Linked DNA regions of Homo sapiens: regions 2, 3, 4 and 5 are each linked to region 1. Evidence: fine-mapped expression QTL. A gene starts in region 1. Each other region holds a variant in brackets. All regions are shown on one strand. Distances are from middle to middle. Region 1 holds the start of SORL1 (sortilin related receptor 1). Region 2 overlaps SORL1 (sortilin related receptor 1). Region 3 has its middle 240 kb from the start of SORL1-AS1. Region 4 has its middle 58 kb from the start of SORL1. Region 5 overlaps SORL1 (sortilin related receptor 1).

Region 1 (5,106 bases):
TCCAGAGTTCCAAGAGGGGCACCTCAAACCCCTTCAGTCACCAACCTGTGCTTGCATTCTGAAGGGTCTGCACCAGATAGAACTTGTGGCAGAAAGCCCAGTACAGGGAAGTTCTTCCTTTTATCTGACTCAAATCCTTACAGATTCAAATTAATTCCACTTCTTATTAACCTCAGAGCAAGAGGCAACAATGGCATAGGAAGGCAGCCACAGAGAAGAAAAATCTCACCCTTGTACCCTCACCCTCCGGTTAGGAATTCCTCATTATGAGTTTGACTGCTAGTTCTCCATCCTTCAGCTGAACCAAACTCAATCTGGCTGGCCCAGAAACTCAAAAGCCCAGGGTTTGGGAGTCACTCCCAGTGAGAACAGAGTTCATGTCCAACCTGCCCCACATCCCCTGGAGCTTTTCATAAACCAAACCCAAGAAAGAAATGGCACATGTACACATATTTTTGAAACCAGAAAACTTTTTCCTCAACCTAAACTATAGCTTCAGGGGACCTGAGCACTGGGAGGGATTGTCTCCCACCAGCCCCCAACTCCCAGTTCCCAGAATGCTGATTCAAGAGCACAGCAGAGCTGGGCTGACTGCGGAGGCCCAATGAAGAAGTGGGCCACTCCTCCTCCTTCTCCCACCCTCCATCAGCCCCATGCTGGTGTCGCTGTTAAGAGCAAGGACCTTGATGACTTCTTTTTGTTCATACACATATTTGTCATATGGGGTGGGGACAGGGGGACAAGGATCTGGGCCCAAGAGGAACTGAGCATGCAGGTTCCTGCAGCCTGTGGCCACCATTAGTTACATGCCCTGGGGCACACATTCTTGCCCAGGGACCAATAGTGGAGGGAAATCCAACGCTCCCACCCAGTCACCACCATCCTTTCCCCCTTTATACCAGATCTATTTTATTTTAGAAAGGAGGTATTTCAGCAGCATTGCATAAAGACAGGGTGACTGCAGTCAAGCAAAGGTCACTGAGACAATGCAGACAAAAACTAGAGAGCAGGCCACCTTCCCGGTATGACCTTGGACTAGTCACTTCACCATTCCACGCTTCAGTTTCTTCACCAACAAAATGACACAATAGGGTGATATGTTTACAAGGTTCGTCCTGGATCCAAGGGTTGAACATTTAACTCTGTATTTCCTGAAGAAATGGCTAAAGTGAAATTAGTGAGAAAAGGCAGAACTCAGGGTAATCTTTTATTAATAATTTCTACTTCAAAAGGAACAATTTGACTCTAGAAAACAAGTGTATTTACCCCCTCCTCTGGTCCTACTTTTTCTCCCCCACCGACCTTATACTTTTGCTGATGTCAATCTTAACTGCAGGACTGGGAGTCTCATGAGGCAATAACACGGTCAAATTAATTTTGCCAGTGCTGATCCTAACCTACAAACTCCATCTGCAATTCCTCGCAGTAAGTCTGACCATAAAAGTGAAATTCACGTTACTTATGATCTAATAAACCTATTGCCTGGGTAGAAATAAATCACTTATAGAATAATAATGCCCACCAAATTTCCTGCAGTCCTTTCAAATCTCCAAGTGCCATGAGGGGTATTCCTCTCCAAAATAAAGTTATCTTGACGGGGGTGGGAGAGTCAGCATCTTGAAGGGTGGGGAAGAAGGAATGGAGAGCATCTCACACGCTCGCCAAAAATTAAAAATTAAAAATTCAGCCTTTACACACGCACACACATACACACACCTCTTGTCTGACTGTACAGAGATAGTCGACAAGCTTTCAGGTTTGCCCACTTTTATTGTGCTAATAATGCTAAGTGTGGAAACCCCCACCTCGTGCTGTTCTGTGTAAGTGTACCGCAACTGCAGGGTGCTCGCCTCCACTGCCAACTGATGATACACTAAAGAAAGCCCGTTTTTTATCCAGATGTAAAATGAAGCTGCACCCCTCCTATACCTGCCGGAAACTACATCTCTCTGCACACACCCTGGGGTAATACGCACTGCACCCGGCGAGTTACCTGGAATACGTTTACTAAATCGACAGGAAGAAGGAAAGATCAATGCGATTCAAGTGCTGACGGTTGTACTCGTGAAGGAAAAAAACAAATGCAAGCCGGGAAGTCCCCAGTGGTGCCTGCACCTAGGAGGCGACTGCAACGGATGGATGCGGGGGTGAGGAAGTGCAGGGAGAGGAAAAAACTGGAGGGAGGCGGGTTGCAAAACTGCTCACCTGTCCGTACACCTTGATGGGCTCGGGCTGCAGGGCAGCGCTCCGTTTCCTCCGGAGCGGCTTCTCGTCCGCGCGGCTCGCCCCCCTGGCATCCCCGCGCGCCCACAGCCGCAGCTCGCGCGGGTCGCCCTGCACCACGAGGAAGCCCCGGTCCTGGGGCAAGGGCGCGCTGCCGCCGTGCAGCCTCTGCGTCCAGACTTCGCAGAGAGCTCCGGGCGGCAGCAGTGCGACCAGGGTGAATAGGAACGGGAGTCGCGACTCCCTCCTGCTGCTCCGTGTCGCCATGTTCGGGCGAACGCTACTGCAGGTGGCGCCGCCGCCAGGAGAGAATGTGCAGCGCGAGGCCAGGAGAGCCGCTGGGCCGGGACCGCGCGCGCCGCTCCCGGGGCTCCAGGCCGCCCGCGCCGCTCCGGGCCGCCCCGCTGCGCCCGCCGCCGCTGCCGCCAGGTCCCGCTCGGTTCGGCGCGGCGCCGTCACGTGTGAGGCTCGCAGCGCGTCCCTTTCGCGCACTTTCTGCGCTCGGCGGCCTCGGCGGCGACTCCGGCCCCTCCCTGGCGCGGGGATGGGGAAGTTAAGGCAGCGAGCGCCGGTGGGGGTGCGTCCCTTCCCTGGCGGGCACACCTCCTTGTTCTCCCTGCAGGAATGAAGAGTTGCATGGGGCTCGCTCGTTTTCTCTGGAGTTAGTTGCGTCCTATACAGGGTCGTGTCGAGGTCGTCCTAAACCGTGGCCACTTTCCTGAGTGCACAGCCCGCAGTAGCGCCACAAGACCACCTCCCCCCGGCCCCGGCCTCATCCCCACCTCCAGGGAAGAGTCCAGAGCCACAGAATTAGCTCCTAGAACGCAACCAACAAGAGTCCAGATGAACCCGCTCTATTGGGAAACTCACAGTTTTTCATCTACTCTGGGCACCACAACGTATTTGCAGGGGCCACAGCAAAAACTACCCTTGATCAAGCTACGTGCCCCAGCCTGAAGCACAGCAAATAAACATCCTGCACAGAGGCAGTAAAAACAAGGGTACATCTGACAAAGAATGCACCACACCTGGACAATTATTACACAGCTATACAGGGTGTGCTTGCACGCACGCATGAATACCTGTGCGTGGCACAGGGCCCCAGCGGCGGCTTGCTTATGATCCCTCCAAGGTGACCAAGCACTGAGCCACCCTGCCTCAGCAGTAAAATAGACATATTTACCAGTCCCTTCAACCCACAGCCAGGAGCTAGGCAAACACCCACAGAGGAGGGAGGACACACTTTAACCCTACATTCAGCTTGACGAGCCAAACTCTCTGAACCACAGGAGATAAAACTTCTGCCATGGAACTGCTAAGGTACGCCCAAGGAAAATATTTTTTTTGCAGGTTAGTGGGAGCAGCCAAAGTCTATGTACTACTGCAACCTTTCCTATTTCATTTTATGTTTCACTGCCCTCTGAACTCAGATCCTGGTTTTTGATAAGAATAAAGACACAGCAAGCAGGGCTGAAAGGGAGACTACCTTTATAGTTGCATACAAGCTGCTGTTCAGGGGAAGGAAGGGATGGTCAGTTCAATTTTCTAAAAACATTCCTCATCTCCGACAAGCCACGGTAGCCCGATTCCTACCCCGGCCCACTCTAGTACTTTTCAGGTAGCTTAGCAAAGCCCCCTCCTCTACCTAGGACTACCACTGACAACCTGCCAGAGTCAGGCCAGCTTGCCTCATCTCCCTGAAGCCAGTATTCAACCACCCTACCCTACCCCATGCCAGACTTGCTGGGGACCTCTGCCTCAGGTTCTGCACTCTCCCACCTCCTCCCACACCCGATTTTCTCCCCAAGTCAGATGATGTCTTTCTGTCCATCTCAACATAATTACAGAACCATCCAGTTCTCCCCACCAAGCAAATCATGCATTCTCTATGTTAACCACCCTGCTTTGTTCATTATACATTGTATACAGGTATCAAAATACCACACTTTCCCCAGTGTGGTATTATTGGGGTGCCTTCATCCTGCACCCCAACTTTGATGTTATTTCAGAGGGATTGAGGAAGTGGTAGCTTGTTTACAACCCAGAGCTGGTTTTGAAGCTGAGAGGAACGCCTTGCTCATATTGTGCAATTCAGCTCTAACTCATATATATAACATATATATTTATTATATACTTATATATGTCAATTAAAAATAATAATTCAAACAATCATGCATCCTCCAAGAAAGCCACTGAACCACTGTCACCTCCCACCCCTCATCTAGATCAGCTCTGTCTGGTCAGCATCACCTTACCAGGAATGGACAACCCCATGGTCTCTCAGGACCAGCAGCAAAGATATCTCTACTCCCATTTAGCCCTCAAAGGAAAATGAAGGGAATATGGCTAAAGTGAGAACATCCTGTAGATGATTCAATTATTGGGGTTTTTCCAACATATATTTAATGAGAACCTTCTCTGCAAGAGCAAGTGTCAGAGTCCCAGCAGAAAACAGAGACAGGAGTCTCCTAAGTGTGGATTTGAAGATGGGCATCTGTTTGCCCACACAAACTGCTGGCTTAAGGTTCAGATGGCCCCTTGCACAGAAGGACTAGTAGGGCAGGGCCAGCTACTTGCTCATTTTGATGTTGATTTGCAACTTGAATGCTAGAGAATTGGTAAGAATATTCAAACATGGTTAATTAACTCCTTGCAAGCCCTCCTATCTAATCATTATCTACATTCCAAACCATTCTCAGGTAGATAATCAGCAACCCCCCAAGACTGTGCCTGCTGCACAACTACAGAACGCAGTGGAAGACACGCTGAATTCTGAGTCAGAAGGTTGACTTTCTAGCTGTGGGGACTTGGCCAAACCTCCTCAGAGCTTCAGTTTTCTCATCTGTAAAATAGAGATCTTAATCCCTACCAATCTCACAGGAC
Region 2 (5,106 bases), 160 kb before region 1:
GCAAAAGTCAAAATAACAGCCTCCTCGGGCACCTTGTAGACTTTCAGTTAAAAAAAAAAAGTAACAATAGAACATTTGTAGTCTCTACTTTATAAGGCTATGACAAGGACTCAATAAAAACATGACTGAAAGTGCTTCACAGCCTAGAAGGAGGAGACAGGAAGAAGCTCCCAAGTCATTCTCAACAGTTACAGGCAGCTTTCGCCACTTAGAAATAAATTAAAATCCATCCTTTAGCACGTGCTTAGATAGAGGAATTTTAGCTGAGACTTGCTGCTGGTACATACGTAACAGGGACTGGACCACTCCTCCCTTAGTTTGTTGTCCATTTCTCCAGTCAACATGTATTTACTGAACACCAGTTATGCATAAGGCCTTCTGCTGTCTCTCATTAGCAACGGGAGAGTGAACCAGACTAGAAAGGACAGACAGGTAACTGTCTATATCTAAGAACTCTTTCTTTTGGAAATCAAAACTCATCTGCAGAGAATTAGTCTTGCCTCTGTCCAATTTTCCTCCTTATGGCCCCCAACTTCCACTAAGGGTCATGAGGTTGGAGGAGGGCTCGAGGGGCCACTGAGTGAATCCCTCTGCCTAGAATCAGCAGCACACTTATAGGATCCTCAATGCACAAGAACCTGTCAACACAGAACAGCTTCCAGAGAATACCTCCCCTTCCCTGGCACCCCCAGTCAAGCTCTACAGCGGGAAAGCATTGGTCCAGCCTTACCCCTTCCTGCACACACACTGACCAGCACCAAAGTGTTACCTTTGTGTGACAATATGCTTCCTCGGAAGTTCAAAGTTCTCCTCTCTTGCTTGTGGGTGTCAAATGCCCAGAAAAGGTTCACCACATAGCCATTCACCTGCCGAGAACCAAGAAGCATGTTAGATGAACAGCTAGTCATGGGGCACACTAAATACAAAAGGCAGGATTAAAAATACACCTCTTTCCTGTTCTTTCCTTGGGTATCTCATTCTTACAGTGAACAGGTTGTTTTTTAAAAATTTTAAACAGGTTCTACTTGTGCTACCATTAGCTAATATTTAGTTGTACTCCACCTACTTCTAAAAACAAACGAGACCATATTTAATTTATAGATTCAATGAAACAAAAAAGTGAATGAAGAATAAAAGGACGAGAACCAATTAATAAAGGTAGAAAGAGGAAACACTGGAAAGATAATTAGGCCATGGAAATTAAGGATAAATCCTTGCAGTCAAGGCCAAGAAGACAATCCATACAAAACAGGCTGGTTAGATCTCATTGTCTAACTACAGAAAATACATCCACCCATCAGGAAAGACTACCTTTTCCAAGTCCTGAGCTCATAAAAAGATTTGATCTGAAGATCGTTAAATATGGGACAACGAACAAAAATATTTTCAAGATCAAAGACTACAAGACAAGAAGCATATAAGCCCACTTCTTTTTTCTTTCTTTTCTTTTTTTCTTTTTTTTGAGACAGAGTCTCACTCTGTTGCCCAGGCTGGACTGCAGTGGCATGATCTTGACTCACTGTAGCCTCTGCGTCCCAGGTTCAAGCGATTCTCCTGCCCCAGCCTCCAAGTAGCTGGGATTACAGGCATGCACCACCACACCTGGCTAATTTTTGTATTTTTAGTAGAGACGGGGTTTCACCATGTTGGCCAGGCTGGTCTCGAACTCCCGACCTCAGGTGATCCACCCATCTCAGCCTCCCAAAGTGCTGGGATTACAGGCGTGAGCCACCATGCCCGGCCGAGGCCATTTCTTATATCAACCCATTCTGAAGCCAAGGTCATGACACTAAATGGCAGTTAAGTAAATGGCAGAAAGACTCTGAAGGTTGCTTGTCCCAACTTGTCCCAACACAAATTCATCAATGGAGAGGCTGTGAGGAGGGACAGATAAGAAGGAACACTATGGAAAGCGGATCTCAGCTTGAGGAACCACATGGGCACAGGTAACAATGATGAAGTCGGCTATGCAGAGGGCCAGTAGAGGGGATGGCGGTGCTGGAAGAGGAAGATCTTAGGTGGATGGAAAGTGAATATGTTTCCAAGGTATCCAACTCT[C/T]CCACAAGAAGGTTGTTCTTCCACTGTGAGCGCCTCAGCATTAGCGCTTAGCACCAGGAAATCCAATAAAGCTGAAAATTACAGGGCATACATATTCTGTTAACACCAACTCTTTATTTGCACTGTAGCTGTGAACCATTTAATTATATGGTTAAGGATAAAAAGGCACCAGGCTGAGGCAGAATAATTACATGTGAAGACTCAAGTTGTTCTTCATGGGGGAAGGAACCACCCTAGTCCTGGTATTTTAGCTTCACTAGATCTAGCCGTTCGTTTTTTTTGTTTTTTGTTTTTTGTTTTTTTCCAGTCTTACTGTGCTATGTCCTTTCAGTTCCCATACAAAATAAAGCCCCATCCAGCTGCTGGCTTGAAATTCCCACATTACCTTGATATCACTCTCCATGGTCAGGGTGAAGCTTAGATAATTTTCACCATAGCTGTCAATGTGGATATCTGGTGGTGGGATCACTGAAAACAAAAAGGAATTCAAAAACAGAAGCCACGTGATGAAAAGTGAGGAAGGCAGGACTTAATAGTTTTCAACTCAACGGACAAAGCCATCTTTCAGTCGGGGAAGAAAGGGTATTTCTTTGGCAGTGTTCCTCATCGATCTTTTTTTACCACTGTTTTCCTGAAGCTAAGGTTGGTCCACAGTTGCTTGGTGAACACAAAACTATCTTGGCTCAGTCGGCTATCCTGGCAATTAGGTCAGGCAGAAAAGTTCCATTTTGTAAAGGTCCCAAAACAGCCCAGCTTCAGCCTGGTTCTTAAAGGAACAGGGATCATTCACTGCGAGTGGCATCTTGATTGGCACTAACAAAGTCCCACCAATCTCAAGTCCTTTCGGAAGGCTGACAATGGAGTAAATCGTAAATGGTAAACGTGCGTGTGGCAAAATGGAAAGAATGTGGCCTCTGGAAGCTGGCAAACTTGAGTTCGAATTCCTGTTCTGGCATCTGTGTAACCTAGGCAAGTTACTGATCTTCCTGGAGCCTAGAGATGTTATCTGCATTTCACAGAGCTGGGAAGGTTAACTAAAATAATGTATGTGTGATGCCTAGCACTCAACTGATACTCTCTTTCTCTTCCTTTCCAATATAGCGTCACATATGGCCAACTAAACAACTAGAAACCACTGGTGCTCTCAAAAAGACTGGAGCTCAAGCTAAGAGTCGAGGGGGCAAGGAGAAGTGGCCAAGGAAAAGACCCCTCTCAGTTCAACCAATGAGCGCCATGCTTGTCATCTGGAAGGTCTTCCCACCAGATGGCTGACAGTGCTTGGCCCAGCATGATCTAAAAGAGCTCAATGGATCAATATTATCAGAAAATATTATTTAAACAACAACTTGCATATTAGACTCTCCACACATATGCCCCTTCTATAGACTGGGCAAGAGAGACTCAAAGGAGCAGATAAGATTTGGTGGCAAAAGAGATGTGTCAAAGTCTGAAGAGGTCTGTCCAGATGATCAATCATGTAATAAAACTAGGCTTCAGGAAAATGCAATAACCGGAAGAAGAAAGGATATTGGAAGCTTCAGGCGGCCAACACAGAGCAAAACAGTGCGAGTGCTGCATATGGTAAAGCTGACTTGAATTATAATCATGGCAACCAGGGACAAGTCACAATCCACTCCAAACCCATTTCCTCAGCTACACAATGAGGATAAGGATACTTATCTCATAGGATTCATAAGGATTAATAAGGGATCCATTCACGAGCAACAATAGCATGGTGCTTAGTGTATAAGAAGTGCTCAGGGAATGGTGGCTTTTCTCATTGTCATTACTAATCCACTACATTCACCAATTAACCTGGCGCGTCTGGCTGATGCCTCTGCTGTCTTTGTCCTTTATCTTAAAACGTTATTATGATACTATGTCACAGATATTTTACAACAAACACTTTTTGGATGTGGCACACAGCTGCCTTCTGTACAAATCCTAGCCCAAATATATGCAAGCAGCTGAGATTCATCAAAATCACAGAAAAGAAGTTAAAGAGAACCAACCATCCACTGAGATTTTCAAATGCAGTTGTGACTTGTGCCTTCGGAATTCAAGGTACATGTATTTGGTTGCTCTTCCAACATCCCTTCTTGGTATGTGTGGTCAGTGTTTTGAAACAGACTTTGTAGAGAGAAGAGATACAACAATAAAAATTCTAGGAGAGTGTGAATTCAGCAGGCTTTCTCTAATACCTGCAAGCATTCAGCTCCAAAGACCATCTGGTGGCACTACGTTTGGCCGCCTTGGGCCCTGATCTCAAAGGCTCCAGATTTTAGAGGGGACTAGATAGTGACTCTCCATGACCCAGAGCCTATTCCTCACAGGCTTAGGTTAAAGTAAAATCTTCCAGTCCTATTGCATGCCACAGTGTCCATCTGGTTTTAATACCTGGAAGTCCAGAAATGCAAGTCCCCAGTGTCAAGGCTAAGGTCAGGAAAACCACTCTGGAAAATGAGTTGTAGTCCATCTCCCAAAGTATGCCAGAACCCTTCATTTAACTGCTTCGATTCACTCAATCATCAATTATTTCCTTAGTCTCTACTAGATGCCCGTGATAGAGTAGAGAAAAACAGACCAGATCTCTGCCCTCATGAGGCACTCGTGCAAGATGCTGAGCCCGCCACCCCCGGCAAGCAGGGCGGTCCAGTAGGCCGCATGTGTCTCAGCCCAGAGAGAAGCGTGGAGCACAGTGGTTAAGAGCACAGGCTTTGGAGTCAGGCAGATCAGGTTCCAGGGCCAGCTCTGTCACTTACTGATTGTGTGGCCTGGGACAAGTGACATAACCTCATTCCAGTTCCTTATCCTTTCTTGTAGTTGTTCTGACTGTTCAATTAGATGAGCTGATGTACGCAAAGCAGTGAACACTCTAGAGTGTCCTGCCCTTGGCAAGCCATCAGTTATTACTAATATCAGCTCTAGTACAAGATAAAAAACCACCTACACACAGTTTGCCAGTGCCACTGGGAGAATAACAAGAGTCAGCATGGTGCTTTCTTTAAAACCCCGTAAGTGAACATGCACAAAATCATCTTCAGCTTT
Region 3 (5,106 bases), 250 kb before region 1:
CTCTTTTGTAAAGGAAAAAAAAAAAAGGAGATGGTTTGAATATTTTGCATCTACAAGCAGCTGTAAATAGAACAGCTCAAGAGTCTCAATCCAAATCTATGCACAAAAAGGCAGGTGAAGAATTGGGAATCTTCCCGGGATGCTGGGTTATGTCGATGAATAATTCAAGTCTAAAAGCTCTTAAAAGGACACAGTTACCTGGTTTTCCAGATAATTAGAGACCCCGACAGAAAAGGTTTTAACCTAATTTAACCAAATAATTAACCAGATCATCCAGAAAAGAGCAAGCTTTTTATTCTGGGTAAATTATCCAGCGTTTCATCATTATTAGGTAACTAACAACCTTCTCCATTACTGCTACGTAGAGTCTACACTGTGGACGGGGCTGAATCAAGCCTGGAGTTAACAGGTGACATGAAGAAAATAAGGAATTATCTAACAAAACCTAGTTGCTCTTTTCAAGTATATAGAGCATGGCTACCTCCACAAAAGCACACTGGAAGTGCCCTGGAAAGCTGAGGCAATTATCTTTAACAAAGCAAAATATCCTACCATTAGGAAAAACTGGATATAGTGGATACCTGATTTTACTGACTTTTTTCACAGGTTGAATTCTTTGAAGAATGTCTTGCTTCAAATGACTGCTTATGTATGAATACTGGGAGACAGAAGTAGATAGACCATTTTTATGGATCTGACGTTATGACTATTACTGCAGCTGGTGAAATCTTCCTATTTTATTAATCAGCTTCTACTTCCCCCAAGATAACTCATTGAGATCCTTGAGGAGTTAACCATTGCTGCTAGTTATAAAACATACCATTTACTAAGTGCCAAACCTATCCCAGGTCTTTAACATATATTACTTCATTTAAAGGCGGAAAAGGCCCTTCAAAGTAAGTTTCTATTATTCCCATTTTGTTGAGGGGGCACTGAGATTTTGAGCGGTAATGGGATCAAGAGAGGCAGTGACAGGCAGATTGACTCCAGAATGAATGCCCTCTGCATGCTGCCCTGAGTCTACCTGTCTAGAGCAGTGCTATATGAACATAAGGCTTCCCTAACTTTCAGCATTGCCTACATCACACATTCAAAATAGTGAATAGAACACTAAAGACAATCATAAAAAAAAGATGGAATACAAAATTTGTCATTACTTTTCACTCTTTAGAGGCAAATACAGATAGGACAACTTGTTGATTTAAAATATGGTGGTCAGAGTCGACCTGGATTGAATTCCTTTTTTTTTTTTTTTTTTTTTTTTTTGAGACACTCCTTCACCCAGGCTGGAGTGCAGTGGTGTGATCTTGGCCCACTGCAACCTCTGCCTCCTGGGTTCAAGTGAATCTCCTGCTTCAGCCTCCCAAGTAGCTGGGATTACAGGCACCTGCCACTACACCCAGCTAATTTTTGTATTTTTAGTAGAGAGGGGGTTTCACCATGTTGGCCAGGCTGGTCTCAACCTCCTGACCTCAGGTGATCTGCCCACCTCTCAAAGTGCTGGGATTACAGGCACGAGCCCTGCTGACCTGGATTGAATTATAAATCTACTATTTCTTAGCTATGTGATCTTGAACTAATTACTCTCTCTAATCTCAGTACTCTCCTTTGTAGAGAGCTGTTGTAAGTATTAGAAGAGTTGGGGTATGCACAATATCTGACGTGCGGTAAATGCTTAATAATTGTGATTATTAAACACGAAGTAGAGCGATCATTCCTAAGAATGCAATGGATGATGTACAGAATTCTTTGCCAATAGGCAATGATCTAGATAATTTAACTGGTGACAGTTAACATTTACATAGCTGGGCACTGTTTAAAGGGCTTTGCCCATGGTAATTTGCTTAATACTTGCAATAACCCTCTGAAATAATCAACTATTATTATGCTGTTTTACAGATGAGGAAGCTCCTTAAACTCTGAAAAATGGAGAGATAAGAAATGGGTCCAAGTTCGCACAGCTAGTAAGTAGCAAAGCTGTGATCTGAACCCGAGAAATCTAGCTCCACAATCCATAATCTTAGCCACTATACTCTACTGCCTCCCCCAACTAAAAAAGAGTGAGATTTTTACTACATTTATACATCATGTCATCACTGTCACCATCATCCTCTCTTCACTGAGTTTTTGGCCACATCTTCCCTTTTTTGCCCAGCATTTAAGCTTCCCCACTCCTTCCATGTAAATGGAAATTCTGACTATGATTTCTTAGGTTTGACTTTTGCCCCCTTGCACTAGTTGAATCAATAACAAAAGACAAAACATAATTCTATATAGCCACAGACCCTAGCCATGGTGTGATTGCTAGAGTATACATATTAACAAGGGAACCTACTTTGCCTCGACAAGAAGCAGTGGAAGAGAGCCAGATGTCCCATTAAAAGTCCTTTCTAACCTAAATGAGTTTGTGACTATGTGTGTTTATACGTGTGAGGATGAAACACACTGTGAACACCGTTTCTCCTAGTGTCTAAGCTGTTATCAGAGAATGAAGCACTTCAGGAGGCTAATTGAGCACTGGAGGCTGTCTATACTGGCAGAGCAGAGGGGAGAGGGAGAGTTGGAGCCCCCCCATACACACACACACACACACACACACACAC[ACACT/T]CAAGAAAAACTGCTCAATTCTCTAGGCAGGCCAATCTCATCTGATAGAATCAAATTAAACTTCATGTTGCCTCTACAGACAAAATACATTTGTTTTCAGATGCCCAGACAAGACTCAGCTTCCCTAGTCTGTGCAATGGTCCTCGCAGGACTTCTGAGTAAACCTCTCATTCTGCGCATTCAGCTCAGACTTAGCTGCCACGATGTTCCGGCATTGTCTTTCCGAGCCATACTCTTCCAGCCCCTGCCATTCTGTTATTTAACAGAGAGCACGCAAAAGAAAAAAAAATTAAGGTGAAAAAGAATCATACTAAAGGTCAATCCCATATTTTGTATAAAGATATTATTTTTTCGTTGTTTATTATTGTTGGCCTGTTTGGATTAATTATAGCACCGTTTTTGTAAGTGGCAGGGGCAATCTGTCACCCAGAATTACACAGCAGGCCACCCAAGCTCCACACTTCCTGTTATCCTGCTGTAAATCAGTGTCACTCGCTGGAGAGCATGCCACACGTACCCACGGCCGGGCTGGCCCCGTCACAATCAATGCAGTGCCCACCACTCCCCTCTTCTCATTCCCGAAAGGGTCCTGAAAGAGGATTTGTCGAGGAATGCCACAGCCTCACAGTGTGCTGACTTTATAAAGAGACGAGGTGAAGTAACACTTTTCTTTTTAATACCCCGTGGTGTCGAACTGAAATTGCAGCCTGCTATTTTCAGAGGCCTCCTTGGTAAGAGAATGTTTTTTATCTGGAGATACAATGACCGTACCCCGTACCCTGCAGTTCCCATGAAGCTGTTGCCAAAGTCCATGAATGCTTGCTTTATGAATTGGTCTTGCAGGTGTTCAGGGGGGTATGTAATCACTAATGAATAGTCGAAAAACACAGAAACTCTCCGCAGCCTCTGGCACCGAGAGCTGCTGGGCTTTATAATTCTGTGAGAAAACACACATGCAACTAAAGCTTTCCCTGGGCTCCAGCGTTGCCTGAGGCCAAATATTCGTCACAGCCCATCCCTAGGCTGGTGGTATGTTCCAGAAGGGATGAGAGCTGTAGTCGCCCTGTGGGCCGGGAAGTTTTTGGCACTTACACAATTTCCCTGCCCTGACGTGGTACATTATTTTAGCCAATGGTACCATCTTTATTTAAGGGCCATTTATGGAATATCCAGCAGGCCAGACCACCTGGATATTTTATGAAGACCTTATGGGCTTAGGCCCAGGTGGGCTGGATGCCCAGGGAAACAAGGCATTGGGAGGTCAAAACCAAATCACCTCAGATAATCTGCACCAATGCTTGGGCAGGAGGGACTAGAGCTATGGAGAGTCAAGAGTAAAGTATTGGCTGGGTGCAGTGGCTCACACCTGTAATCCCAGCACTTTAGGAGGCTGAAGCGGGCAGATCACAAGGTCAGGAGATCGAGACCATCCTGGCTAACACGGTGAAACCGTCTCTACTAAAAATACAAAAAAATTATCCAGGCATGGTAACAGGTGCCTGTAGTCCCAGCTACTAGGGAGGCTGAGGCAGAAGAATGGCATGAACCTGGGAGGCGGAGCTTGCAGAGCCAAGATCATGCCACTGCTCTCCACTGCTTTGGGTGACAGAGCGAGACTCTGTCTCAAAAAAAAAAAAAAAAAAAAAAAAAAGAATAAAGTATTTTTTTCAGCCAGGCATGGTGGCTCACGCCTGGAATCCCAGCACTTTAGGAGGCTGAGGCGGGTGGATCACCTGAGATCAGGAGTTCAAGACCAGCCTTGTCAACACGGTGAAACCCCGTCTCTACTAAAAATACAAAAATTAGCTATGCGCAGTGGCGGGCACCTGTAATCCCAGCTACTCGGGAGGCTGAGGCAGGAGAACTCCTTGAACCCAGGAGGCAGAGGTTGCAGTTAGCCGAGATCGCACCACTGCATTCCAGCCTGGATAACAGAGCGAGGCTCCATCTCAAAAAAAAAAAAAGAATAAAGTATTTTTCTCAAGCAGGCTAGATAAGGGGGCTGTGCATGGGAAAGAAAGGGTCTTGGTATTGGATGCCCACAGGGCAAGAGGCTTTAAATCTAAAGAGAATCTATCATGTCCCCTCCACCCAAGAAAAGTTACCGAGAATCAAGACTTGTAGGAAGAGGATTTTATTAGAGCTAATCGAGCTTGTCCTTCCCAGCCTCAGCCCGGCAGGGAAGCAAAGCTAAAACATTTTAGATGTGGAAGGCAATGCTTGTTATTTTTCTCACTTTCCCTACCTGCCCTCCCTCTCTTTCATGAGCCCTCTCTGAGCTGATAACTGGAAAAATGTAAGAGTGGTAACTGGATCAGCTCTCCAGCCCTTCGAAAGGCTGGAAAAATAAAAATAAAAACTTGTGAGAGATATCCAAATTCTCTGGTACTTTGAATGGGGGTAGTAAGATCTCTTTATCAATACAGGCTCCATCCCCACATTGAAAACACAACATCAGGGCACTGGGAAAATACAGAAGCCTAGTATTAGAAAAATAGA
Region 4 (5,106 bases), 58 kb after region 1:
CATTTTAAAGAACCAAAATAATGATCAACTCTAGGAAAGACAAAAAGTTATACAACAAAGGAAACAATAATAGTGTACTACTCTTTTTAGTTTCCTTAAGAGTATCCTACTTAATACTACTACTGCTAATACTATTAGCTATACTACTTAATTAAAAGTATCCTACTCTTAATTCACTGATAGTGTACCACTAGTATACTACTATTAATGAATAGTAATGAATGTCATTTATACAGCTATAATAGTAAAGTACTGAGTACAAATTAGCAAAAGCTGAGATGAATAATAATGAAAGATGAAATGAGATAAGAGCATGAAATTCTCATCTTCCAAAATAGAAAGACGAATAGATATCTAAAATTGATGCACCAAGATATAATTTGTATAAGCAAATTATTTACAAGTACAGAAATAAACACCAGAAGAAATAGCTTAAAAATGGAAAGTAAGAGGTCTGGGGAGTGGGCTGGGGACAGAAGGCATGCAGGCAGGGGACAGCTGATTTTCCGTCTGTCCTTTTGCTACCATTTCACTTTTTTTTCTCTTTTTGCTATGTGCATTTATTACTTTGTAAAAATAAACATTAATTTAAAAAAGAAATTCAGTTTAGTTTGAGCTGCTCAATAAGCCCCAGTTTAGGAATCTATTAATCACTTTTATGTGTCATTACCTAACATCTTAATACAGGAAGGGGGAGGAAGCCATTTTCTATACAATTTAACACTACCTTTGGTATGGAGTTATCGCTTGTGTCAGGGAGATAAATTTAATCACCCCTTTGGTGTCCTATTGTTATGAAGTGACAAAGTTAATGCAATTTATTCAGCACTCTTGGAAGTTTCATTATTAATCTGTCACTCATGATAAGGCTCTAATTTTGTGAAATGACTTAATTTTTCTTCTTGGTTTTAAAATCATATTTATTCTAGTTTGCCTTAAAAAAAATTCAGGAATTCAAATGAGAAGTTCAGATCGAATTCCCTAAACTGCTTTAGTTCAGGGGGAAATAAAAACTTTCCTTGGTGAGAAAATTTGTCATTTACTTCTCCTAAAAAATTGGCATTTATTTCTACACTTATTTACACCTTTTATTCCTATTTTTTATTTACACTTTTTATTTCTATTTTCTTATTTACACTTTTTATTTACGCTATTTATTTCTCCACTTATTATAAAATTCAGGCGAAAGAATCCTTAATAATCACCCAATACAGACTCTTTATTTGGCACCCAAGTGAACCATTGCAGCAAGGAAGGTTAGAATTACATCAGTATTGTAATGATGCTACAAAGTAACCAGCTCCCTCAATGATCCAATTTTTTAGCTACCCATCCTATTTTGGTGCTTTGGATTTTGGCTCAGGTTGTAAGACAGCCTGAATGCTCTCTTACACCACGTGCTGTGGGTGCCTAGTTAATATTCCCTCATTCCGCAAATATGTACTTGGTTTCTGTCATGCGTACAAGACAGTGGATTGAATGGTAAGCCCAATTCTCCATTTTGAGAAAAAGAACATAGGAGTTTACATGAGACCTGGGACTCTTCACTCCTTTGTTGCCCTGTGCTGGGTATACAAATACTCCACGTGGCCAGGAAAAGATTGAGGTGTTCACAGCAATCTGTACTTGCCCTCCTGCCCCTAAGGAGGAGAGCAATTCTTCAGAAGAACACTGACAATTGTCCCCTAAATGGACTCTCCTTTGTCAAACCAAGGTTACCAGAGTTTGTGTGGGAGGGGTAGGGTTTTGCACAAAGTACCAGACACAGGAAGTTACATGTGTGCCCTTGGGATCTCTGCAGCTGTCTAGGTGTGCATGTAAATGGGCCAGGACCAGCTGCCTGGGGTAAAAGCTCTCCCAAGCATTCCAGTATGGAGTGGTGAAAGGGGGCAAAATGGTTATACGGACAATAATGCATTGGATAATGTGGAAAATTCGAAGTAACTCCTTTTTAGATCACGTTCTTTTTGCTGCTGTTACCACGTTACTAGCGAAGTATTGAGGAAAGAACACACGCTTTGAAACCAGACAAATCTGGGTTCAAATCCCAGCCTCCCACCTTAACCCAAATGACACTGCACAGATTACTGAAGGGCTCTGAGCTGCAGTTTCCCCTTCTGTGAAACAGAGATTCTGTCCACCTCATGTGTTGTATGTAAAGCTTTGAAACACAGCAAGCAGCCAATCAATGGGAGATATTAAGTTGTGTATGTGGAACACCAGCAGGATTCAGTATAAAACTTGTAGACAGGAAAGATGTCATCAAGAACATTTGAGCTTTTTTTTTTTTTTATTGAAGGAGTGATAATTTTTCTAACTCTTGGTGCACTCTCGCTCCTCTACAACTTGCAAACTTAGCCCAGATTTCTGACAGGGGCCTCTGAGTAGCCATTGCCAATCAGAGATCATGTTCCATTTTGTCATCTGTCCCCAGAGTTCTATCAAGTAAACAAGCGAACACCTCCATGAGCTGGGAACCAAGAAGTCTTCCTACCTGTGAACTACTTTTCGATGGTCTCGAAGTGGTATTTATTTGAAACCAGATTGGTGTACAGCATTGTTTGTACCCATCTTTCATGCAGGCTGCCGCCCTGCCCCACCATGGAAGGGAGAAACAATAGCCAGGAGGCAGGCAAAAGACCAAGGACTTCTCAGGCAGGGAGAGAAATGCAGGTGGTTTTGCGGTCAGG[A/G]TCAGAGGGGACACAGGAAGGACTGCAGGACAAAGGAAGTTGCTGTTTAACCACTGCATGAAATGGAAACTGTTTTGAACTTTCCTGAGAATTGGACATGGAAAGAAAAAGAAACCAGACATAAGGGGAGAAGAAACCATAAAGGGAAACTTGAACATAAAGGAAAACTTGTTCAAGTTTTTTGTGTGTGTGTGTGTGGAGATCTCATGCTTATCTAAATTGCGGCAGCTTTCAAGGCCAGTGCAAATGCCCATGCAGCTGGGAAGCCCAAGTTATCCTGAGCTATAATCATTTGGGTAAGGGGGATACTTACTCCCTTTTATCCCTAGCTCAGAGTACACGCGCACATCCTACGCCAGCACCAAGCACAGTTATGGTGGCCCACAAGTGTGCAAGAAGGTCCTGGGGAATTGTGGCCAGAGTGTCTGGAGATGAGTGCTTGAAGCACAGACAGGGCCAGCAGCCCACTCGTGCCTGGTGAATGGCTCTAAAGCCCTAGGTGCTGGAACCCACAGTTTCTGGACAGGCACAGCACACTCATGTATCACCCCCACACCATGCTTCTTCTTGGGGTCTGCTGCCCCTGGCACTTACAGAGCCATGGTTCAACCAGAGTCCAGCTCTCAGGAATAGACACCCTCAGACTCAGGGTCCTTTTTTCCTATCTGCTTCTTGGTTTCCTACCCATTCCCTTTTTTGGCCGCACTCTCAAAAGCCCTTATTCTTCTCATTAACTTTTTTTTGTTTCTTTGTTTTTTTAGCCATAAAAGGGCTTGATGGATCTCTAAATGAGCTTGATGGTTGATGGTGGGCTAGAAAGTTTGTAAATCCTTGGCAACACCCTAATACTTGTTAGCCCCCACAATTCCTAGAAACTCAATCAGATCTCTTGCCAGAGTAAAACAATGTTTCCAATCTTTCTGAATTGTCATCATCCCCTAGGGATGGACAAAGGGACTTTTTTTCTAGAGAAACACAACATAAACAAAATAGAAACAAAACAAGAAAACCCCCACAAACAGATTCCTTTTTTTTTTTTTTTTTTAAGAGATAGGGCATCTCGCTATGTTGCCCAGGCTGGCCTCGAACTCCTGGGCTGGAACAATCCTCCCGTGTAGCTGGAACAACAGGCATGCTCCACCATGCCTGGTCCACAGATAGATCCTTAATAAACGACTGCAAGCTAAGTCTGGTGAGTTACCTTGTATATATCCACATACATTTATATAAATGCTCCTTATCTCTTAGGAGGGCAAGGAAATGCGTCCTCATGTATTCTACCCTTTCTCACATAGCATTGTAACTTACACCTAATAAATGCTTTCTAAATATCTGAATTCCTTCTCGTATCTATATTGACATGTCTTTATATGACATGTTTTCCAGTCCCCTCATCATTTCATTGCTATCCCTGGCATGCTCATCTATGTCTGTAGCCTTCTTCAGATGAGGCCCTTGGAAGAAAATTAAGTATTTCAGCTGTGATTTGACCTGTCCGGAGCATGGATTATAACAGGGCCATAATATTAAAACCTCTCTGTAGAGATTAAAACCAACACATTACTCTGCACCCTTATGGTCACTCAAGCAGTTATAAACCCACCTAATTATTCTTGGCTTTAACTCATCTTTCTCTATCTTGAGCACAAGGATACCTATAAGAGATTTTAATAAACACTGTTGAAGTCCCAAAACATTCTGTCAATTACAGTTCCCTGGTCTTCCCTGAGTAATGTATTAAGCAGGATATAATTCTGTCTACGTATCTTAAACAAGACAGAAGTTTGTCTTTTTATCATGTAAAAGTCCAAGCTGCTATGGTGGCCTTGCTCCAAGAAATCTGCAGGGGCGTAGGCCCTTGTGGCTGGGCCACACCCAGGTACTGGCCTCATCTGCCAAGTCCAAAGGGCTCACTCATTCATGTTTCAGCAAATAGCAGGTACTTTCCTCGAAGAGCAAGACTTAGAAGGACAACACTTCCCTTTGGCTCATATCCATTGCCAGGGCTTGGTCATGTGTTCTAAACGCAGCTGCAAGTGAGGCTGGGAAATTGAGTTTTTATCTTGATAGCCGAAGTAGGCTGAAAAGCGCCCCCCACCCCCAAATGCTCGTGTCCTAAACCCTGGAAGCTGCAAATATGTTACTTTACATGGAAAAGGGACTTTGTAGATGCAATTATATTAAATATTTTCAGATGAGGAGGTTACCCTGGATTGTCTTGATGGACTCAATGTAATCAGGAGCATCCTTCTAAGAGGGAGGCGAGAGATTCAGGTGAGAGAAGACAGAGGATGGAAGCGGAGGGGAGAGAGCAAAAGCCATCTGAAGATGCTATGTTGCCGACTTTGAAGATGGAAGGAGTGGCCACAAGCCAAAGAATGCGGGTGGCCCCTTTGCATTCTCTGTTTGTTCTGCT
Region 5 (5,106 bases), 180 kb before region 1:
GGAACCACAGTGCATGGACTTAAAGTATTAGATCCTATTGGCAAGATCTTTTTAACTAGAAATGGATCCAGGGTGTTGCAATCTGACGGCTTCAAATACTAAGTTTATATGGAGTAGATTATTCCTGTTGTGGAGTGTCAAGTCTTTGTTCATTCATTCAGTATTTATTGGGCAACCACTATGCTAACCCAGATCCCTCCTACTTTTAAAACTCTTTGCCCCTGCTCTCCAAGCAACCTTCTGGTGGTGACTGGCTCCTGGGGTAGATCTCCCTACAGGGAGAGAATGCACTGGTCATGCAGACATTGTAAGGGACAGGACACTTTCCCAGGGTGAATTAACAAATGGACATTATGACGTTGCATATCAACATCCTGAGTTTGGTTAAGGTGTGTTTGGCCATGAGAGATGAATTCACTATCATGTGTTGACAAAAATTATCTAAGCCTGAAAACCTAAGGATGAGGCCATGACCAAGGAGGCTCACCCAGGTGGTAGGTCTCCCCTTGGGATTTCGCTTGGTGCAATGTGTTGGACTAATGTGTTCTTTGTGATACTGAATGGTGACATGAGGCGCTGTGGCGTCGTGATTCAGAAGAGGATCTGGGATCAGAAACACCTGGGATGGGAGGCTGGTTTTGCCTTTTATGCTCTGGTTTCTCCTAAATTACTTCACTTTTCTATGCCTCCTTTTCTTCATTCACAAAACCAGATGATAATACTTCAGGGTTTGGCTCTGGCTCAGTGTCTAAACAAAAGCAGCATACCAGAAGACCTGTTAAATTCTTAAAAACCTGCCTCCCTCCCCCACCCAGTTCCACAGCCTCCAATCCTGACTTACAGGCCCATGGCCATTCAGCTGCCCATAATAGGTACACGCAGCACTCCTCACAAGACTGTCTATGGAAACCCATAGAAGTGCTCTTAGACACACAGCTCATCTATACTGCTGTGCTTCCGTCTCTTAGATTTGAAAATTGCCTTCTTAGCAAACTGTCTCTTAGCAAATGTAGTTACAAATTTAAGGGAGCCACTTTAGTCATTGTCCCTACGGAATAATTCTGTTTACTTCAAAACAGCCAGCACATCTTCCCCCTCCTCAACCAACACAAAGACATCGTGTTCTTCAAGGATCCACCATCTGAGACCAGCTTGTTAATAACAAAATTATTCCAGGCCTTGGTGTTCTCTCATCTATGAAATAAACATCCGTTTAAAACAGACCAATCAAATGGGGTTTGGAGACTGCGTCAGCCATCTTTATTGCGCTCTAAAGAACAGCTCGAGACACACAGAGACAGTGGATTTTCAAAGAGGTGTTTTCTTGACCCAGTTAAATTTTTATTCAGTGAAAAAAGTTGACATTGAGACAAAAATTATCTTAAAGTTGTGCAACAATACAGTAAAACCTTCAGCAGATTTCAGTGACTTGGAAACTTATCGAGGCAATTGAAATTATAAATACTTAATTTCGCTTTGGAGAGAAACAAGTATACAGTGTTTCACTTTAAATAAGAGTAGAATAGGCCTTTATTTTGCCGCAAATACTTTTGATTTTGCCTAAAGTTTCTAATAGTTCATAACAAGAGTCTTTAAATGAGAAGTGACATAGAATATTTGAGGATAATGGTCCACTCCAGCATTCATGCTTATTCCATTTGAGCTATTACACATGAAACTCATACCATTCTTGGGTTATTACTTGGCTGTGACGATTTAATTCATAATATGGCTGCTCAAAATTAGTGGGCAGAAACATACATACAACCCATCCTCCCTCAACCCATTTTCGGTGCTGGTACTCCATCTGAAAACACACTTACTGTCCATGTACCCAGCAGTACATATCTCTTCCTATCTATTCCATATCTCAGTCTTGCATAGAAAGTAGTCTATATAAACTTAATGCACTGGCTTTTATTACACAAAAATTGTACCTGAAAGGCAGCACACACTCCAGTTAAGAAAAATAACACAACAGGAATGTCAAGATACAATCCCAACACAAGATTCTGCACAGAGTTTTAGAGTCAATTCCTAAAATCAATATGGGATGATATTCAGTTTAGTTATGTCTCTGGATGCCTTCTCTAAGGGACTCATCCAACTGTCTGCAGAAGGAAGAAAATTTTCAGGAATTCCCCATGACTCCCTTCATGAAGAAGGGACTGACCAAACCTGATAGGATGGTGTTTCTGCCCTAAGGAAGTGTACTGGAAATATAATCTTACTAGATGCAGTGACCACTTGGTAAGCATCTGAAGGCAGCATTCGCCAAGAAGGAGTAGGCGCTCATCTCTAAGGGGCTCACCATACTATTGCTCTCCCAAGCTTCCCCTGAAAATGGCCAGTTCTGAGAAGGGTTACATTCCCTAAATTGCTGAGTACAGCTTCATCTAGTGGGCCAAACATGATGGGCAGGAGAGAACAGGCAGCTGTGTGTCTTCTGTCTGTCCCACCCAAATATCCCTGGTGATGCTACCAAAGACAGAACCCCAGGAATTACTTGTCCAAAAGTCAGAGTTTCAACCAGTTACCCAGAATGATAACTATTTACCCAGCTTGTCAAGGTAGCCAGTAGTTCCTGGAGCTTCTCACCTGTCTGGAACTAGGACTGCACAGACATGGCCTCTTCCTGGAAT[C/T]CTCTGTAGAACTCCACTCTCTAACATTTTATCCATGTGGACTCGTATCTCATAAAGCTCAAGGGGCATTCAATACATCCAGGAGTAAAATCGGTTTCCAGAGAAAACTCATAAGCAAACCCCCTGCCCACCAATTTTTAGAGGCCCATCGTGGTCCACATGGATGCAAGCATCTGACATTCTAATGTATGCCAGGAGAGAATAAAACCTTTTTCCTGCACAGTGTGAACTTCTGAGGTGGCATCTCCAACAAGGTACAAAAGCCCCTTCTTCACAAGCAAGCAGGGACTCCGATTGGTCACAGTGAAGACAGTTATGTGGTCACCTTCAGAGGCTGCCTGTAGTACAAGGCATTTGTTTTCATTTTCTATTGGCACTCCAACCTCTGGATTCTTTCAGACAGCATATATACATGAAATCCCCACAAAGCTACACAGAGGGAAACAGGAGTGTGTGCTTCAAAAGTTCATAAAAATATACAATTTACATATAGCTGCAGCTATCTAGCTTAGTCTTCAGGAACTTAGCTCTTCTGTTTATATAAAATACTCTAGCCCTAAAAGGCTGCTTTTTTTCAAACAGCACAGTGGCATTTTCCAAGGAGAGGGGTGATGGCCAGTCTACAGTACTGTGCACTAAGCATTGGGAGGCACTGGTAGCTAGAACCGGATGCTCGGAAATATCTCAAGCTGCCAACTGGAGACATATGCTCTGTAAAAAGGCTTGCCTATGGAATAACTGAAAATAACATCTCAGAGCCTTTTATATCAGCTTTTACAAATGCCACCAAAAAGTTGGCAGAAAAAGAAAAGAAAATACACTTCCTAGTGGTTCAATTAAATGACTTGCCTCCCACCAGGTTGTTAATGATTCAACTATTTAAAGAGCTTATTAAAGGGGAGGTGGTAGGGCTTAGAGTTTTGAACAAATCTCTACGGTAAGACAAGATAAAGCCAAAAAAAATTCCAGTCTTTAAAAAAAAAAACTTAGGAAAGTGACAGGAAAGAAGAGAAAATACGCTAGAAGAAGGCTTATCATTACCACCAGTTGTTAACATGAAATACAGTCCTACCCGTATGGCAAACTAAAGGTCGACAGCTTAAAATACTCATCTAAGTATACATATAAATAAAAATTTCAAAAACTAAAAAATTTAATTGGCTCTTTCTTTGTTTTCTAAACAATCCCTAAGTAGAATGAAACTATATTATCACCCAAGAATGATACTTGTGGTTAAAAGAAACTAAACACTTGTGAGAAGGTGATGCCTCGCACCTAAGCGGGGATGGGGTTTTACAAAGCTTGCACGTCAAGGACACATATTCAGAGACATGACTTTGGAATATTCCCAGACCTCACTGCTTCTTGGCTGAAAGGAAATTCTTCAGTGAGAATCATACAGCACAAGTCACAACGATGCTCGACATTGGTGCCCACAACACTAAGCCTAAATAAAGGGCTTGCATCAGCCCACGATGGATTCTACATAAGTATCAAGTGGCCATGGTTTGAATACACGGGTGGCATTTTAAAGGCAGAAGAAAAAAAGCACAGCTTGTTTTACAGAGAGAATAAATGAACAAACTCTAGTGCTCCTGCTGTTGTTAACTGGATTGAGTAGTCTCAACTTTTTAGATCTTCTCTATCTCTATGAGAATGTACAGCACTGTCTCTTTAGATTGGGTGGGGGCATGGGTGAGGGAGATGGAAGAAGAGGAGAAAAAAAAAGAGAAGGCACTGTCCAATTCAAAATGACTGCATATATCAGTATGGATTTTTAAGGACAATAAGTGGCCATCTCAAACCAAATACATAATTTTACATCTGAGATCCTTCAGTAGTAAGTAAAAACAAAAAATGGAAAATGGAAAAATTATGTACTCTATTAGCCAGTGTATGGATCATGGCACAGATCTAGAACTCTCCCCCACAACCAGGGTAAGTTTTTGCAATGACAATGAAACCAGTGTGTAATAAAGCAGTGTTATCATTTTGTAGCTCTCAAAGCTACATCTTGTACAGAGGCACATACAGTAAAATTCCATCAATTAATATAAGAGAGGAAGCTGTGGGCTTACAGGGCTTCCCAAGCTGCAGCTCTGTTGAACTGAACTCCAGCAATGACTCAGTGCTCTCTCCTGCCAAAGACCATTACATGACACACAAGTGAATAAAAATGGATTGCTTCCGGAATGGCAAAAAAATATGCTTCTCTTCCCACCCCCAACCCTATGGGTAAGGGGCTCATAACACATGTGGTGTCTAATGACCACTAAAGCCTGGCCTTACACAGAGTCCCAATAAATTAACAAAATAACATAAAGAAACCTTCCGCCATAATACATCCACACACTTTCCTATAAACTATATCCAAACAAAATGGAATATCTGTACACACTTTCAAGGAGAAGGGGTTCCACCCATCACTCTCTCGAGGTTTTTATTAAATACATTTCTGTGTCTT

The links. PIP is the estimated chance that this variant, and not a neighbour inherited with it, causes the effect.
Region 2: its variant is fine-mapped to the expression of SORL1 in whole blood (TOPMed, PIP above 0.99).
Region 3: its variant is fine-mapped to the expression of SORL1 in whole blood (INTERVAL, PIP 0.99).
Region 4: its variant is fine-mapped to the expression of SORL1 in whole blood (TOPMed, PIP above 0.99).
Region 5: its variant is fine-mapped to the expression of SORL1 in whole blood (TOPMed, PIP 0.98).

The regions. Positions count from the first base shown.
Region 1 is chr11:121,449,716-121,454,821 of GRCh38, reverse strand. It overlaps SORL1 (sortilin related receptor 1), which reads right to left and starts at 2,508. Exons shown (of 48, transcript NM_003105.6): 1 at 2,206-2,508. The coding sequence starts at 2,490. It overlaps SORL1-AS1 (SORL1 antisense RNA 1), which reads left to right and starts at 1,855. Exons shown (of 3, transcript NR_183636.1): 1 at 1,855-2,147; 2 at 4,923-5,106. RefSeq lists silencers at 498-547, 2,392-2,441, 2,572-2,621 and enhancers at 1,672-1,721, 1,742-1,811, 1,852-1,901, 1,912-2,101, 3,492-3,551.
Region 2 is chr11:121,608,496-121,613,601 of GRCh38, reverse strand. It overlaps SORL1 (sortilin related receptor 1), which reads right to left. Exons shown (of 48, transcript NM_003105.6): 39 at 2,444-2,526; 40 at 770-866. Among named protein-coding and RNA genes, the nearest start is that of SORL1-AS1, 160 kb to the right of the region's middle. The variant C/T (reference allele first, on the strand shown) is at 2,059.
Region 3 is chr11:121,694,796-121,699,901 of GRCh38, reverse strand. No RefSeq gene overlaps it. Among named protein-coding and RNA genes, the nearest start is that of SORL1-AS1, 240 kb to the right of the region's middle. The variant ACACT/T (reference allele first, on the strand shown) is at 2,604.
Region 4 is chr11:121,391,645-121,396,750 of GRCh38, reverse strand. No RefSeq gene overlaps it. Among named protein-coding and RNA genes, the nearest start is that of SORL1, 58 kb to the left of the region's middle. The variant A/G (reference allele first, on the strand shown) is at 2,691.
Region 5 is chr11:121,629,890-121,634,995 of GRCh38, reverse strand. It overlaps SORL1 (sortilin related receptor 1), which reads right to left. Exons shown (of 48, transcript NM_003105.6): 48 at 1,233-5,106. Among named protein-coding and RNA genes, the nearest start is that of SORL1-AS1, 180 kb to the right of the region's middle. The variant C/T (reference allele first, on the strand shown) is at 2,643.